Linked DNA regions of Homo sapiens: region 2 is linked to region 1. Evidence: fine-mapped expression QTL. Tissue or cell type: whole blood. Region 1 holds a variant in brackets; the other region holds the start of a gene. All regions are shown on one strand. Distances are between the middles of the regions.

Region 1 (8,107 bases):
TATCTGACGGCCTCTCACCCTGAATCAGTGATGCGGCCGTCAGCCCCACCGACTCAGTTGCTGGATCGCATCACCCTGCACTCACTATAGCCTTCGTTTTAATTAGAAACCCCAGTATCTCTCTGCCTCTCTCACATTGGTATTATTACACCCTGGGCAAACTTCTAAGACGTCACAGGAAATGACAGAACTTAATGGGATTATTTTTAAAGCTCAATAATACTTTCCCCAATCCAAGAGATACTTTGAAAACTCGCACTATGAGTCACGCTATCCTCTGATGTTACCAAACTAGTAAAGAATCCAGGAAAACATTTAATATTAGCAATGTATAAAGAAACAAACATAAATAGACTTAGAGATTTTGAGTCTCAGTATTTCGTTATAAACTTCTTTCATTACAAAATAAGATGTTGTATCACCAGAAACAGAACATCTCTTTCTGCCACCTGAAAAGTCCCCATAACAAGCCCTCTCTTACTCTCAATTCAGGGTCATCTTGCTAACTAGCAGCCGGTGTTCCTCATTACCTGGAGCTCCCCTGGAGGCAATGCTGGTATCCGAATGGGAGCGAATGTGGCTTTTCTTTGCCCCACTGGTGACAGTGAGTGTCTGCCCCTCTGAGAAGCTGGACCTGCGGAGGACACTGGACAGCTGGCTCTCCCCACCTCCTTCCTGGTCCCCTAAGGAAGAGGCAGCAGAATCTGGCTTCTGGGAGCTGCTGGAGGAGAACAAATTGGAACTGCTGCTCTCGGCATTGCTGCTGTGACTCTGACAGCTGGCAGTCCGGCCTCGGGGGTCCAAGTTGCCAATGGCCAGGTACTCAGGCCCCTCACTGGCATCACCTGGGGAATCATTCTGGCTGCTGACCCAGGATGCCTCTATGGGGCTGGTCAGAGTACTGGAGCTCATTTCATTTGGGGTCAAAGGGGAATCCCTGGCTAGTGCAGAGACTGAAACTGGGGGGGCTTGGATGGTTTGATCCTCTGCTGGTGAGACGTGCCCTCTGCTTTCTTGAGGTTTCCGGGGAGGGCCAGAGAGTGGAAAGGAAGTAGATCTTCTCTCTAGAATATAAAAGGAAATGGTAAGGGGAGCAAGGGTGAGGTGGAATCCTGCAGTATGTATGAAGGACTGGGTGACCAGGACATACGATGTCACCTCAGAAACGGCAAGCCAAATAAAGTACAAAATTATTTAGAAGCAGCTAAGTCAAGAGTATGGGCTCCTGAGACAGTGCTTTATTGCTTATTAGTATGCATTCCTCATCTGAAAAATGAGCAGTAAGAGGACTGTTTGAAGGCTCAAATGGGATAACACATACAAACTGAACACAACAGAGCCTAGTACATGATTGGCAATCATTCGGTGTTAGCTAGTATTGAAATGCCTTCTTGGCAATGTGGATTAGAAACCCAGGGGAATCTACAAACATCTCTCTCTTCTGTTACTTCATGATTCTACTGAATTATTTCAAGCTAGTCACTATATAACTTGTAAAGATGTCCCTTATTAAGAAAAACTACCAACCCAAGTCTCAATTTTCCAAGCCTATGAGCAACCACAAAGTCTTCTTACTTTCCAGGGCTGGGGATAAATGTAATGACCACTTTTTCCTGTCCCCATACCTGAGCCATTGTTGGGCACGGATTGGTGGAGGCTAGAGAAGGACCCAAAGTAGGAATGCTGAGCATAGCTGTTTGGAGGGGTGTATGTGGAACTGGGCAGGGCTGTCAGGCTCTGGCTCTTTGTCACCAGGAGCGGGCTCTCGTGCTTTCTGGCAAACTAAAAAGCAAAACAAAACCAAAAAATGTGTCAGAGTTAAGGACAAAGGGCCTCAGAGTGGGGGCAACGCAGTACTGCAGAAATGCCATAGAAGCTACCTTTGCAGTAGGCCTGGACTTTAGCCAGAGCCTGTAGATACAGCAAGGCTACCTTCTACTACAGTATGTAATTTACAACTGTGAAACCACAGCATCTGCACTGGAATCCTTCCAGGTGTTAAACCAGGAGTACTTTATTACAGAGGCAGCACAACAAAGTGCTGATGTATGTGGAATCAGAAGTCAGACAGACTAGGGTTCAAATCCAGGCCCTGACACTTATCAGCTATTTGATCCAAACTTTGGACCACGTATCTACTCTGTGCCTCAGCAGCCTCCTTTATAAAATGAGATCAATGCCCACTTCACAGGGTTATGAAGAGTCAATGACATGATACATTTATCATACATAGCACCGTGCCTGGCACATACAAAGTATTAAATGGATAGTAACCAACAATCAAAATTAAACGAATCAGGCCGGGCACAGTGCCTCACACCTGTAATCCCAGCACTTTGGGAGGCCAAGGCGGGCAAATCACTTGAGGTCAGGAGATCGAGACCAGCCTGGCCAACATGGTGAAACCCCGTCTCTACTAAAAATACAAAAATTAGCTGGGCGTGGTGGCGTGCACCTGTAATCCCAGCTACTCGGGAGGCTGAGACAGGAGAATCACTTGAACCCGGGAGGCGGAGGCTGCAGTGAGCCAAGATCATGCCACTGCATTCCAGCCCAGCCTGGACAACAAAGTAAAGACTCTGTCTCAAAATAATAATAATGATAATAATTAATTAAAAGAATCTGGAGAGATAGGGGATCTGCTTCTCTAAGAAGTGGGGACTCTGATTCCATTCTAGCTAAGGCACTGACTGGAGTATTAGTGATGGGATAAGTTAATTTTAGGCAACAAATTTTCTTTGTACTATAAAATTTTCTTTACATCAAAGAAAAAAACATGAAAAAACTGACCCCGTGTAACATTAAGCTATGCCAGGTCTGACACTAAACTCTATCCGATTCAAAACCATCCCTCTTTTCCCCAGATCTTTGTCAAGGCTTGGTATCCTTTGTCAAAAGATACCACAGGTTTAACAAAATCTACCTCCCCACTCCCCAGCTTAGGTCTACTAAGCACACGACCTAAGCCTAGACTTTCTACTTCAATAGGTACTTAACAGTACCTCCCCTCCTCCAAGCATTTTAAATGAAAGCTGGCCGGGCGCGGTGGCTCAGGCCTCTAATCCCAGCACTTTGGGAGGCCGAGGCGGGAGGATCACGAGGTCAGGAGATCGAGACCGTCCTGGCCAACATGGTGAAACTCTGTCTCTGCTAAAAATACAAAAAAATAGCTGGGTGTGGTGGCGGGCGCCTGTAATCCCAGCTACTCGGGAGGCTGAGGCACAAGAATCGCCTGAACCCAGGAGATAGAGGTTGCAGTGAGCTGAGATTGCACCACTGCACTCCAGCCTGGGAAACAGAGCGAGACTCTGTCTCAAAAAAAAAAAAAAAAAAAAAAAAAAAAAAAAAAATGCAAGCCTTTCAGCTCACAAAAATGGCTAAGTGAAAAAGTTTGCTGTAGAGGGCTACATCCTGCTGAGCTCCAGGGACCCAGCATAGACGTGGATAATTCCTTGTCCCCTGTACCATGGACGCATCGATCTGAGCCAGGAGGCGGGGGTTGTTCTGTTCCACTGCTTCCAGGCACTGCAGCATGGCCGTGACATGAGCGTCACTTAGCAGGAAGGCAGCATCTGGGGAGAGAAAAGCTGCCACAGTGATAGAGCCCATCAGGGAGGCCTTGAGAGAAGCTTGAGGAAGCAGAAAGGGAGAGGTAAGGATGAATGAGGAGGAGGGTGAAGGCAGATCAGAAACAAAGTAGAGGAGAAGCTGAAGAAC[G/A]CGAGGTGCAGCAAAATGGCCAGGGCAAGAGGCTTCAACGTCAGAAAAATCCAGATTTGAATCCTGGCTCTGAGTGACTTTGGCCAAGTCGCCTAACCTCCTGGAGCCCTGTGGATTGGAAACAGTAGCACCAATGCCCAACTCTCGGGGCTGCTGTGAAGATACTGGACAGCAGTGACGGGCACACAGGAAACTCGTGGTAAATGGTGGCTATTCTTACGGTTTGTGTGTGTGGCCGTAGGGGACGACCTTAACATAAAGCTGGATTGTGTCTTACTTGGGAGGTGAGAGGTAAGTCTGGATATATGTTTCTGAGTAGAATCCCTATGGCATCAAGTGAAAAACAGGAGGCCCTGCCGGGCACGGTAGTCACGCCTGTAATCCCAGCACTTTGGGAGGCCAAAGCGGGCAGATCACCTGAGGTTGGGAGTTCGAGACCTGCCTGACCAACATGGAGAAACCCCATTTCTACTAAAATTACAAAATTAGCTGGGCATGGTGGCACATGCCTGTAATCCCAGCTACTCAGGAGGCTGAGCCGGGAGAATTGCTTGAACCCAGGAGGCGGAGGTTGCAGTGAGCCGAGATCACGCCATTGCACTCCAGCCTGGGTGACAAGAGCGTAAGTCCATCTCAAAGAAAAAAAGAAAAATAGGAGGCCCTGGTACCAGAGGGGTAGAGGATAGTGAGGTGGGTGACAACGAGGAAGCACAGATGACAGTCCTAAGTGGCCTCTACCTACCTGTGTAGAATTTTCTGATATACTGTCTATCCCCGAGCAGGGGCCGGAGCTGGGCTGAGAGGCAGTGGTACTGCAGGCTGTGCTGCAGCCACAGCTCGGCAACAGCACGTTCACTGGCACCATCAGCACTGCTCTGGTCGTTCTCGTGCACGCTGATGAACTGGGAAGCAAAGGGGCATGAGTCAAAACACACATCCTGGTAGATACGGCAAGATTGAGGCCTAATGACCTGAGAACTAAATTGAGACAGGTAAGGGAAATGCTTTGAAAGGCTTCACCCTGGGTCCCATGTAGGCAGGCTTTTTTGAAAATAGCAAAACTTTTTTTCCCTTCCCCAGAGGAGAAAAAGTGGCCTGGACCAATGGGTTTGCATGTTTTTTTTTTTTAAGCAAATAAAGTCAGTCCCTACAGGGATAATTAATTTCCTTTCCTCAGCTGATAGGCAACTGGACATATTCCCTCCTTGGAGCCTAGAAGATTCTTCTGACAGAGCCTCAAACAGTGAAGACCCACAGCTCTGCCAGCACAGCCGCTCTGCTCTCACTCTTACCTTCTCCACGTGAAGGGCTGAGTGGGGACTGAGCCACCGGATGTCTTTCACGAACTGCCAGTAATCCGTCTGGCGGCGGCACGCCTGCAAAGGGAACACATACAATGAGCAAATCACGACCATTCTGGACCAGATCTAGTTCTAGGGTTGGCATTCAAAGATAGGAAAAGGACCACAACCTTCCCTTGCCTCATCAAAGGTTCTTAGCAGCAATCAAAGGATACACACAGAGGCCAGGGGTGGTGGCTCACACCTGTAAACCCAGCACTTCAGGAGGACTGCTTGAGTCCAGGTAGACTGGCCCATCTCTACAAACAATTTAAAGCTTACCCCGAGTGGTGGGACATGCCTTAGTCCCAGCTACTCAGGAGGCTGAGGTGGGAGAATCACTTGAACCTGGGAGGTCAAAGCTGCAGTGAGCCATGATTGTGCCACTGCACTCCTGCCCAGGCAACAGAGTGAGACCCTAACTCAGAAAAAAAAAAAAAAAAAAGAAAAGGAATTAAAAAAAAAAAAGGAATACTACACTTGACATATGTTTACCCTTTTAAAGAATAATTGTTAAAGATTATTTTAACCATTCTTTTGAACAGGTAACATATGCATATGACATACAAGGTATACAGTAAAAATAATGTTTTCTTTTTCTTTTTGTTTGAGACAGAGTCACTCTGTCACCCAGGCTGGAGTGCAGTGGCGTGATCCAGCTCACTGCAACCTCCACCTCCCATGCTGAGGCGATTCTCATGCCTCAGCCTCCCGAACAGCTAGAACTACAGGCACATGACATCACGCCTGGCTAATTTTTGTATTTTTAGTAGAGATGGGGTTTTACCATGTTGGCCAGGCTGGTCTCAAACTCCGAGCCTCAAGTGATCTGCCCGCCTTGGGTCACTTGTGTTGGGATTACAGGCATGAGCCACCGTACCCGGCTGAAAATAATGGTTTCTACTCCTTTCTCTCTACCGTTCTGTTTTCTAAAAAATAATTCTTAAAACTGGTAAAGAGCTATTGTTAAAAGCCAGAGCTGGATGTCTTTAGCCCCTACTGCAAAAGCAAAATCAAATAAGGAAACATCTACTTTTCCACGCCACCCAGGTCAGGGAAGAGCTGTGGAGGCAAAGAAATGCCCAGACCAGATGAAATGGTCTCACGCTGGGACAGGCCTCAACATGCAAAATGTTTGTACCATAACAACCCAATTGTTGTTTTTCGATAACCTTTTCTGAGACTACTGGGTAGGGATTAAAACTAAAATCTAAATAATTAAAAATATATAGAGCTAGCACAAGTATCAAGAGACAGACCAGGCCAGGCACGATGGTTCATGCCTGTAATCTCAGCACTTTGGGGGGCTGAGGTGAGCGGATCACTTGAGCCCAGAGTTTGAGACCAGCCTGGGCAACATAGCGAGACCCCATCTCTACTAAAAAATCCAAAAAGTTAGCCAGGTGTGGTGGCACATGCCTGTAGTCCCAGCTGCTTGGGAGGCTGAGGTGGGAGGATCACAAGAGCCCAGGAGGCAGAGGTTGCAGTAAGCCGAGATCGTGCTACTACACTCCAGCCTGGATGACAGAGAGAGATCCTGTCTTAAAAAAACAAACAAAAAAAGAGACAAAGACCAATCAATGGTACAAAATAAATAGCCTGAAAGAGACCTTAAGATATATCAGAACTTAATACACGATCTAAAACCACCTCAACAGTCAGAGGTGCTTCTTTGTAAAAAGTCTTTCTTCTCGCCTCTATACTGCGAGGGTAGAAGTGAGAACCGGAAATGTCAGATGTGCAGGCTCTTTTGACAATAAACATCATGAAGACCTTCAGTATTCTGGTGGTAGTGCGGCAGGGACTCTGGTATCTGGTTGAGTGGATTTTAAGTGGCCAGCCAGGGCTGGGCAGCCGTGGGACATCAACTCCAGCATGTCTCTTGGTTACATCATTTTTAAGTGAAAAGCGTGTAAAATTGTGGCCGGGCGCGGTGGCTCACGCCTGTAATCCCAGCACTTTGGGAGGCCGAGGCAGGCAGATCACGAGGTCAGGAGGTCAAGACCACAGTGAAACCCCGTCTCTACTAAAAATACAAAAAAATTAGCTGGGCGTGGTGGTGGGCGCCTGTAGTCCCAGCTACTCGGGGGGCTGAGGCAGGAGAATGGCATGAACCCGGGAGGCAGAGCTTGCAATGAGCCGAGATGGCGCCACTGCACTCCAGCCTGGGTGACAGAGCGAGACTCCGGTCTCAAAAAAAAAGAAAAGCATGTAAAATTGGTTTCTTTTCTTCAGACAAAATTTTAAACTAACTTAAACCCTTAAATAAACTACTTTTTTGTTTGGGAAAAAAAATGGAAAAAATTGATTATTCAAGAAATATTGTTGAGAAAATTGGCTGGCTAGAAGTAGACCAATTTAGGCATTCTCCTCAAATCATAGAAAATAAATATGATTTATTTTATAAATTCCAGAATAAATTCCACCTGTATTGAAGAGTTAAAAAGGAAAAAGGAAACTACAAATCCACTAAGAAAAGTAAGGATATTGGATTTCTATGCAGATAAAAGTTACAATGTTTAAAAGCAGAAGTGCAAATCAAGCCGGGTACAGGGGCTCACGCCTGTAATCCCAACAATTTGGGAGGCTGAGGTGGGAGGGTCACCTGAGTCAGGAGAAGTTCGAGACCAGCCTGGTCAACATGGTGAAACCCTGTCTCTACTAAAGATACAAAAATTAGCCGGGCATGGGGCACATGCCTGTAGTCCCAGCTACTCGGGAGGCTGAGGCAGGAGAATCACTTGAGCCTGGGAAGTGAAGGTTGCAGTGAGCTGAGATCAAGCCACTGCCCTCCAGCTTGGGCAATAGTGCAATACTCTGTCTCAAAAAAAAAAAAATAATAATAATGCAAGTTCTGATTCAGCAGGTCTTTCCTTGCTACAAAAGTGCAAATCATAAAGGAACAGAGAGAGGGATAAATTTTATGAATAAATTTCTTTACATAAAAAAAGAATGTTTAGCATTTTTTATGATAGCAAATAAAGAAAAATATGTAAACAATTTTTTTTTTTTCCAAGACGGAGTCTTGCTCTGTCACCCAGGCTGGAGTG
Region 2 (8,107 bases), 32 kb after region 1:
AGCTGGGACTACAGGCGCCTGCCACCACGCCTGGCTAATTTTTTGTATTTTTAGTAGAGACGGGGTTTCACTGTGTTAGCCAGGATGGTCTCGATCTCCTGACCTCGTGATCCACCCACCTTGGCCTCCCAAAGTGTTGGGATTACAGGCGTGAGCCACCGTGCCCAGTGTAGTGTAGTAGTTTTACCAGGCAACCTCAAAATAACTGGCATTTAGGAAACGGAGGGAAAGTGAAGTATCATCCCTAAGCCCCAGAGCATCTGGCTGGAGTGATAGCTAGACGGAAAACAATAGGGAAGCCCATCACCTAAGCACACTACCGGGGAAGTGGGAAGCTAAGCCAACACTCTAGGTCCCAATGTGTTCAACTCGGATGAAGGAGCCACTGAAAGAGGAAGAACAAGTGATACCCTTGCAAACAGTCACTTGTGGGGGAGACCCTCGCCTTATTTCAAAAAAACTAGCAAGGGGTGGATTCGACATTTTTCCTACTTCCTACGTATCAGGCTCTCAGGAGCTTTATGCACATTGTTTTATTGAATCCTCAGAACTTCTCAGGCAGGAAAGCATTATTCTTCCTACTCAGGCAGGTTACGTAAAGTAACTTGATCAAGTTAAGCCAAATTAATCCGTGAACTAGGATTCAAATGCAGGTCTGACTTTAAAGCTTATTCACGTTTCATTATATCAACTACTTAAGGAAAATACACTGAAAAGTTTCATCCTTCATTTTTAAAATGACACTACCGGCTGGGCACAGTGGCTCATGCTTGTAATCCCAGTGCTCTGGGAGGCCAAGGCAGCAAGATCCCTTGAGGCCAGGAGTTTGAGACTGGCCTAGGCAACATGGTGAGACTCTGTCACTACAAAAAATCTGAAAAAATTAAAAATTAGCTGGGAGTGGTGGCACACACCTGTAGTCCTAGCTACTGAGGAGGCTGAGGTGGGAAGATCACCTGAGCCCAGGAGTTTGAGGCTGCAGTGAGCTACGATTGCACTATTGTACTCCAGCCTGAGTGACACAGTGAGACCCTATCTTTAAAATATATAAATAAATAAATAAAAATGATGCTATCTCATCAAGAAGACTGTTTCTGAACTGGGTATTTCATTGGCCATAGAAAGGTTATGTTTGCAGTAACCCAGTCACAAAGCCTCAATTAATAGGCACAAGGAATGTGTATTTACCAGTTGTGTATCTGGAGCTAAGGAGGCCATCAGTACCATGAAGCCTCATTAAACAACGCATTCTGAATTAATCAGCCGCCAACACAGTATGCCTATAACAATGACGGGAGTGACTTTGTGAGGATAACCCCACTACTAAAATTAAGTTTTGATTAAAGTTTTTTGGTTAAGAGGCAATCATAAAAAGAATAAAAGACGGGAAAAGATTCTGCAAAGGAGCTATCCTACTGGCCTGAATGACAGGCACAGAATGCTGTGAAATTTATTCACTATCTTATACTTCCGTTGTTACTATTAGCATAGTGAGAGGCAGCATAGGGTGAGTATTAAAAGTACAGACTCGGGCCGGGCACGGTGGTTCACGCTTGTAATCCCAGCACTTTGGGAGGCGGAGGCTGGTAGATCCTCTGAGGTCAGGAGTTTGAGACCAGCCTGGCCAACATGGCGAAACCCCGTCTCTACTAAAAATACAAAAAATTAGCTGGGCGTGGTGGCGGGCACCTGTAATCCCAGCTACTTGGGAGGCTGAGGCAGGAGAATTGTTTGAACCTGGGAGGCAGAGGTTGTAGTGAAGCAAGACGGTGCCACTGCACTCCAGCCTTGGCGACAGAGCAAGACTCTATCTCAAAAAAAAAAAAAAAAAAGTGCAGTCTCTTGGGCCGGCATGGTCGCTCATGCCTGTAACCTCAGCACTTTTGAGAGGCCGAGGCTGGAGAATATCTTGAGCCCAGGAGTTTGAGACCAGCCTAGGCAACATAGTGAGACCCTGTCTAAAAAAAGAAAAAAAAAAAAAAGCGCAGACTCTGGTGCCGAACTGCCTGGGTTTGAATCCAGTTCTGCCAGGGATTCGCTGTACAACCTTGGCAAGTTACTTACCCTGTCCATTTCTCAGCTTTCTCATCTGTGACACAGCAATAACAGTAGTACCGACCACATACAATAGTTATAGGGATTAAAGAAGTTAACGCAGTATTCATATCTTAATACCTTAAAACAATTCCTGGCATGTGGTAAATAGCATTTGTTACATACATTAAAAAAATAACTAACCCAGCCTCCCTCACATGAAGTGGTAGAGGGAAATCAAAACAATCCTAAAACGTGTTTAGAATTTACATGGGACCTTTCACACGAAGCACGTCACAGACATCTGCAGGAAGAATAAATAGTCAAATAGGCAAAGCAGAAACTGAAACATGGAAAAGGGAAGTAAGATGTTCAGTTTCACTTAGCACAAATCATTCTCAGATCTCAGGCAGGAGCCCCAAAGTCCTGTCAGTCCAGGTTTTGTTCAACAGGCCACTTTGCACATAAAAGTAGAGTCACCCTTAAAAATAGCAAGTCTTCACCCAGGAACATCTCATAAATCTTCCCTTGTTGATATTTTCTCAGAGGTAAATATTCTGCTTCTAGTTTTTGGATCCCAGCTGCTCCTGAGACCATCATTATATCTGAAACTGTTTCTAAATGTCAAGTGAGGTCAGGCCTGGTGGCTCACACCTGTTAATTCCAGCACTTTGGGAGGCCGACGTGGCGGGGGAGAATTGCTTGAGCCCAGGAGTTAGAGACCAGCCTGGGCAATATGGTGAGACCCTGTCTCTACAAAAAAGTTTTTTAAAGTAGCCAGATGTGGTAGCTGGCACCTATATCCCCAGCTACTTGGGAAGCTGAGCTAGTATAATCGCTTGAGCCCAAGAGTTGGAGGCTGCAGTGAGCCGTGTTCACGGCACTGCGCTCAGCCTGGGGGACAGGGTGAGGCTGTGTCTCAAAAAATAAAATAAAAATAAAATAATAAATGTCAAGTATGACTCCCTTAAGCCACATTCCTGCTCTCGCCTGTCAGCATTCCAGCCTCTTTAAAAAAGATTAAGACCAGAGTTATTAATGAAGCAAACCCTAAATATGGAAGGCATCTCTACAGACTCCGATTCATCATTTAGTCAAAGTAGTTCGGGGTTTCTTTGGCTTTTTGTTTTTTGAAGACAGGGTCTTCCTCTGTCACCCAGGCTGGAGTGTAGTGGTGCGATCTCGGCTCAATGCAGCCTCGACTTATTGGACTCAAGTGATCCTCTCGCCTCAGCCTCCCGAGTAGCTGGCACCACAGGTGAGCACCACCACGCCGAGCTAATTTTTGTATTTTTGTAGAGACGGGGATCTCCCTAGGTTACCCAGGCTGGTCTCAAACTCCTGGACTCAAGCGACCCGCCTCAGCCTCCCCCAAGGTGCTGGAATTACAGGTGTGAGGCACCGCACCCGGTCCAAAGTAGTTTTTATATTTTAAATCCCCCAATTTCTAGAAGATATGAGCTTTCTGACATGGTTCCATATAAATAAATGTGAACTTGCTTAGTTTGCATTGTGAGGAAAAAGGGACAGGTTTGAAGACGAAAAGGAAATGGCACAGAGGTCCTGCCACTCTCTGACAGGGATTCGGCAATGACAAAGTGCAGAGTTTCTGGTCTCATTAGCAGTCCCCGCCCCACCGCACTGCCATGACACTCGCTCACTTTCTCCCCAGGCTCTCCTCGCCTTCATCCCCATGCTCATCTCTGCCTAAGCTTCTTCCGAGGCCACTCATAACGCTTCACCTCTGCTCCCAGGAATTCTCACATCCTCTTCGCGTTGGCCCCACTTGCTGTCACGGCAAGTTTCAGTCCGGGTGGTGCCCTGCCCCTGTCTATAGACTCTGGCCTGTAAAACCTCACTGCACCCCTCTGGCCTCTTCGCCCAGTCTCTCAGCTGCCACCTCCTCTCCAGCAGTCTTGGATCTGAGCTTCACCCTCCTCTGCTGCCCTTGCCCTCCGCAAATCCCACCCACCCTCCTCACCCTAAGCCGGTTCCTTCGTCCCATCCCCGCCCCGCCCGTCCTTCCTCTGCGAAATGCTTCCCAAACAAGTCCTCCGCAGCCGTCGTCCTCAAGACTCGTCGCGCCCGGCCCTTCTCTCCGTGACCCCGCGCCCTCCCAAGCCTCCCGGGGCTCCGGCGCCTGTCGCTGCCCCGACTCCGCGGCGGCTCCCAGCCCACCTGCTCTCCTCAGGCAGGCGCTCCTCGCCGCCTCCGAGCTCCATTCCCGCGCCCTCCGGCCGCATCCGGGGCGGTGAGGCCGCCTCTTCGCCCAAGAGAGGCGTCCCTGCCGCTTCGCCCTTCAGGGCTCCCGGGGCCCCCTGGGGCCGGAGGAGGCACCTGCGGCCGGTGGGCTCCGGGTGATGCGCTACACCCGGGCGGCGACAGCGGGAGGGACCGCCGCCTGGGCTGCGGCTTCTATCCCGGCCACCCCCACTTCCGGCTCCGGGGACTACAGCCCCCGGCGAGCACTCCGAGGCTAGGCCGCTCCCGCAGGACGCGTCCTCCAATCCCAGGCCGCGCTCGCAGACCGCGCCCCTCCAACGGCAGGCCGCTCCCGCAAGCCGCGCCCTCCAATCCCAGGCCGCTCCCGCAGGCCGCGCCCTCCAATCCCAGGCCGCGCTCGTGGATTACTACGCACCCGGTGGTTGGCTGGGCCGGCTTGCAAGCGGCGGGGGACCTTGGTCTCAGGAATCCGTGCCGGGGCGTATCCTTATTCACCCCCGTGACATTACACGCTGGGGACCGAACTCAGTCCGAGATGTAGACTAGGCAATAACGCTAATCTAATCCCGGTACGATTAACCCCACTCAGCCCGCCCTGGCTTAATGTCCGCTGGTGGTGTTTGGAGACCTCGAGCATTTAAATGAAGCGCTCACAAACAAGAGCACAGGTTGCTTTGGGATCATAAAAGAGCAGGAGAGAAAGGCTTCTGGGGGCTCTCGGAAGATGGATGTCAACGCAGAGTTTTCAAGGCTGAGTACGGGTTAGCCAGGAGAAAGAAGAGAAGGTGGAGAGAGCAACACGGCAGATACAAGGAAGGAAGTGCTGGCTTGGGAACTGCAGGTGCTGGGTAGCCAGAGCTGGGAAGGAGTGAGCAGCAGCATGGTGTGGGCATTCTGGTGTGGGGAAACCAGATCATGAAATGCCATTTTAAGGAGTTTGGATTTTATCCTGAAAACAATCAGCAAATCAAGCATATGCAAATCAAGAAGTGATTTGATCGAATCTGATGAGAAAGCCACTTTTGACAATGTGGACAGGAGATGGGGCAGATATAATACTATATTGAGGTAACGGTGGAAGGCTAGATAGGAGACTGGTCATCCTTATGGGGGATAACCAAGTAATGCTAAGAAGTGAAGCGAACCAGTTGAAAGAAACGTGGGCCTAGGGTTGCCAGATACTCTGGTTTCTCTTTTTTCTTTTTCAAAGACGGGGTCTCTCTCTGTCGCCCAGGCTGGGGTGCAGTGGCGCAATCATAGCTCCCTGCAGCCTGGAACTCCTGGGCTCAAGCAGTCCTCCTTCCTCAGCCTCCTGAATAGCTGGGACTACAGGTGCGAGCCACCACACCTAGCTATGATATTTTGATTTTTTAAAAGAAGCTAGGATCTGCATTTTTAAGCACTACTTCCAAATTTTTAAACGTTGGCAACAAATTTTTTAAACTTTCAACTTTGCACAGGCCAAACACAGCTTGTCTGTAGGCTGAAGGTGGCCCTTGAGTTGCTAGTTTGCAAACCCAGGCTTAAACTACAGCAGCGGTTGAAGAGAACAAGGAGGCTCAGATTACAGCAATGTGAAGGCAACAGAATCAGCACTACTCTATAAAGGACTGACTGTGGCAAGTGAGGGAGAAAGAGCGATCAAGAATAACTCCGTGAAAAACTAATGACTCTATATTAAAATAATATATGGCTTTTAGGTATTTTCAAACTTGACAAAAGTGTTTTGGCAATTAAAAATGAAATGAAAGAGCCTCTTGAAGCCATTTATGATTTCATTTAGGTTAAAAAAATACTCTCTTTCAAACTTTCTCATTTTCCTACTAAACGATTATACTTCTTTAAGAAAGGGGCAATATTACTCATTGGGATTTCTCTTCCTTCTGTGACTTTCTTCTCTTTTGGAGACGCAGTCTTGCTCTGTCACCCAGGCTGGGGTGCAGTAGCGCTGCCACAGTTCACTGCAGCCTCAACCTCCTCAAGCGGATCCTCTCACCTCAGCTTCCCAAGTAGCTGGGACCACAGGCAGTGCCACTATGCCCAGCTAATTTGTTTTTTTTTTTTTAATTTTTGGTAGAGACAGGGTCTCACTGTGCTGCCTAAGCTGGTCTCAAATTCCTGGGCTCAAGCAGTCCTCCTGCCTCAGTCACCCAAAAAGTATTGGGATTACAGGCATGAGGCACCATACCTGGCCTTACTTCTAGTTCTATAAATGTATGAACTTTATTTTTTGGCATACAGTATAATCCCAAATTAACACTATATTATTTATTTATTTATTTTTGAGACAGAGTTTCACTCTTGTTGGCTAGACTGGAGTGCAATGGCGCGATCGGGTTCAAGCGATTCTCCTGCCTCAGCCTCCTGAGCAGCTGGGATTACAGGCATCCGCCACCACGCCCGGCTAATTTTGTATTTTTTAGTAGGGACAAGGTTTCTCCATGTTGGTCAGGCCGGTCTTGAACTCCCGACCTCAGGTGATCCGCCGGCTTCGGCCTCCCAAAGTGCTGGGATTACAGGCGTACTAAAAAATACAAAAAAATTAGCCGGGCATGGTGGCAGACGCCTGTAATCCCAGCTACTCAGGAGGCTGAGGCAGGAGAATGGCTTGAACCCAGGAGGCAGGGCTTGCAGTGAGCCGAGATCGTGCTACTGCACTCCAGCCTGGGCGATAAGAGCAAGACTTCGTCTGAAAAAAGAAAAAAAAAAAAAGGCCGGGCGTGGTGGCTCATGCCTGTAATCCCAGCACTTTGGGAGGTCAAGGCGGGCAGATCACGAGGTCAGGAGATGGAGACTATCCTGGCTGACACGGTGAAACCCCGTCTCTACTAAAAATACAACAAAAAATTAGCCGGGCGTGGTGGCGGGCGCCTGTAGTCCCAGCTACTCCGGAGGCTGAGGCAGGAGAATGGCGTGATGAACCCGGGAGGCGGAGCTTGCAGTGAGCAGAGATCACGCCACTGCACTCCAGCCTGGAAGACAGAGCTAGACCTGGGCGACAGAGGGAGACTCCGTTTCAAAAAAAAAGGCAATCAGCTTTATCAGGAAATCCTAGGGGCCAGAAGCGGTGGCTCACGCCTGTAATCTCAACACTGGGAGGCCCAGGCAGGCGGGTCACTTGACACCAGGAGTTCGAAACCAGCCTGGCCAACATAGTGAAACTCTGTCTCTACTAAAAATACAAAGAAAAAATAGTCGGGTGTAGTGGCACACGCCTGTAATCCCAGCTACTTGGGTGGCTGAGGCATGAGAATCGTTTGAACCCGTGAGGTAGAGGTTGCAGTGAGCTGAGATTGTACCACTGCACTCCACCCTGGGTGACAGAGTGAGACTGTCTTGGGGAGAAAAAAAAGAAATCCAAAAACTAAAATTGTAGCAAAAAGGCTGGAAAACAGGCTTTTTCTCATATGTCCAAGTTCAAGTTACATGTACTGGATTTTCTTTAAAGCCATTAATAAACATGACAATAATCTGCACTAGCCATGCGTTACCTATCCCATCCCTCTACTTTCCCTCATAATCCTGAACCCCTTCTTTTGTTTTTTTTTCTTTTGAGATGGAGTCTCGCTCTGTCACTCAGGCTGGATCATGGATCCACTGAAAATACAAAATACAAAAAATTAGCTGGGAATGGTGGCAGACGCCTGTAATCCCAGCTACTCGGGAGGCTGAGCCAGGAGAATCTCTTTAACCTGGGAGGCGGAGGTTGCAGTGAGCTGAGGTCATGCCATTGCACTCCATCCTGGGCAACAAGGCAAGACTCCATCTTAAAAAAAAAGAAAAAGAAAAAGAAATTTTGTAGTATAATTGGCAAAATTTGAACATGAACCATAATTGGATAATAGTACAG

Evidence for each region. PIP is the estimated chance that this variant, and not a neighbour inherited with it, causes the effect.
Region 2: it holds the start of RUBCN, and the variant in region 1 is fine-mapped to the expression of RUBCN in whole blood (TOPMed, PIP 0.99).

The regions. Positions count from the first base shown.
Region 1 is chr3:197,700,083-197,708,189 of GRCh38, forward strand. It overlaps RUBCN (rubicon autophagy regulator), which reads right to left. Exons shown (of 20, transcript NM_014687.4): 3 at 5,010-5,093; 4 at 4,460-4,619; 5 at 3,466-3,572; 6 at 1,626-1,782; 7 at 531-1,064. Among named protein-coding and RNA genes, the nearest start is that of MIR922, 30 kb to the left of the region's middle. The variant G/A (reference allele first, on the strand shown) is at 3,718.
Region 2 is chr3:197,732,443-197,740,549 of GRCh38, forward strand. It overlaps RUBCN (rubicon autophagy regulator), which reads right to left and starts at 4,462. Exons shown (of 20, transcript NM_014687.4): 1 at 4,213-4,462. The coding sequence starts at 4,277. RefSeq lists enhancers at 2,760-2,809, 3,740-4,587 and silencers at 4,176-4,725, 7,085-7,217.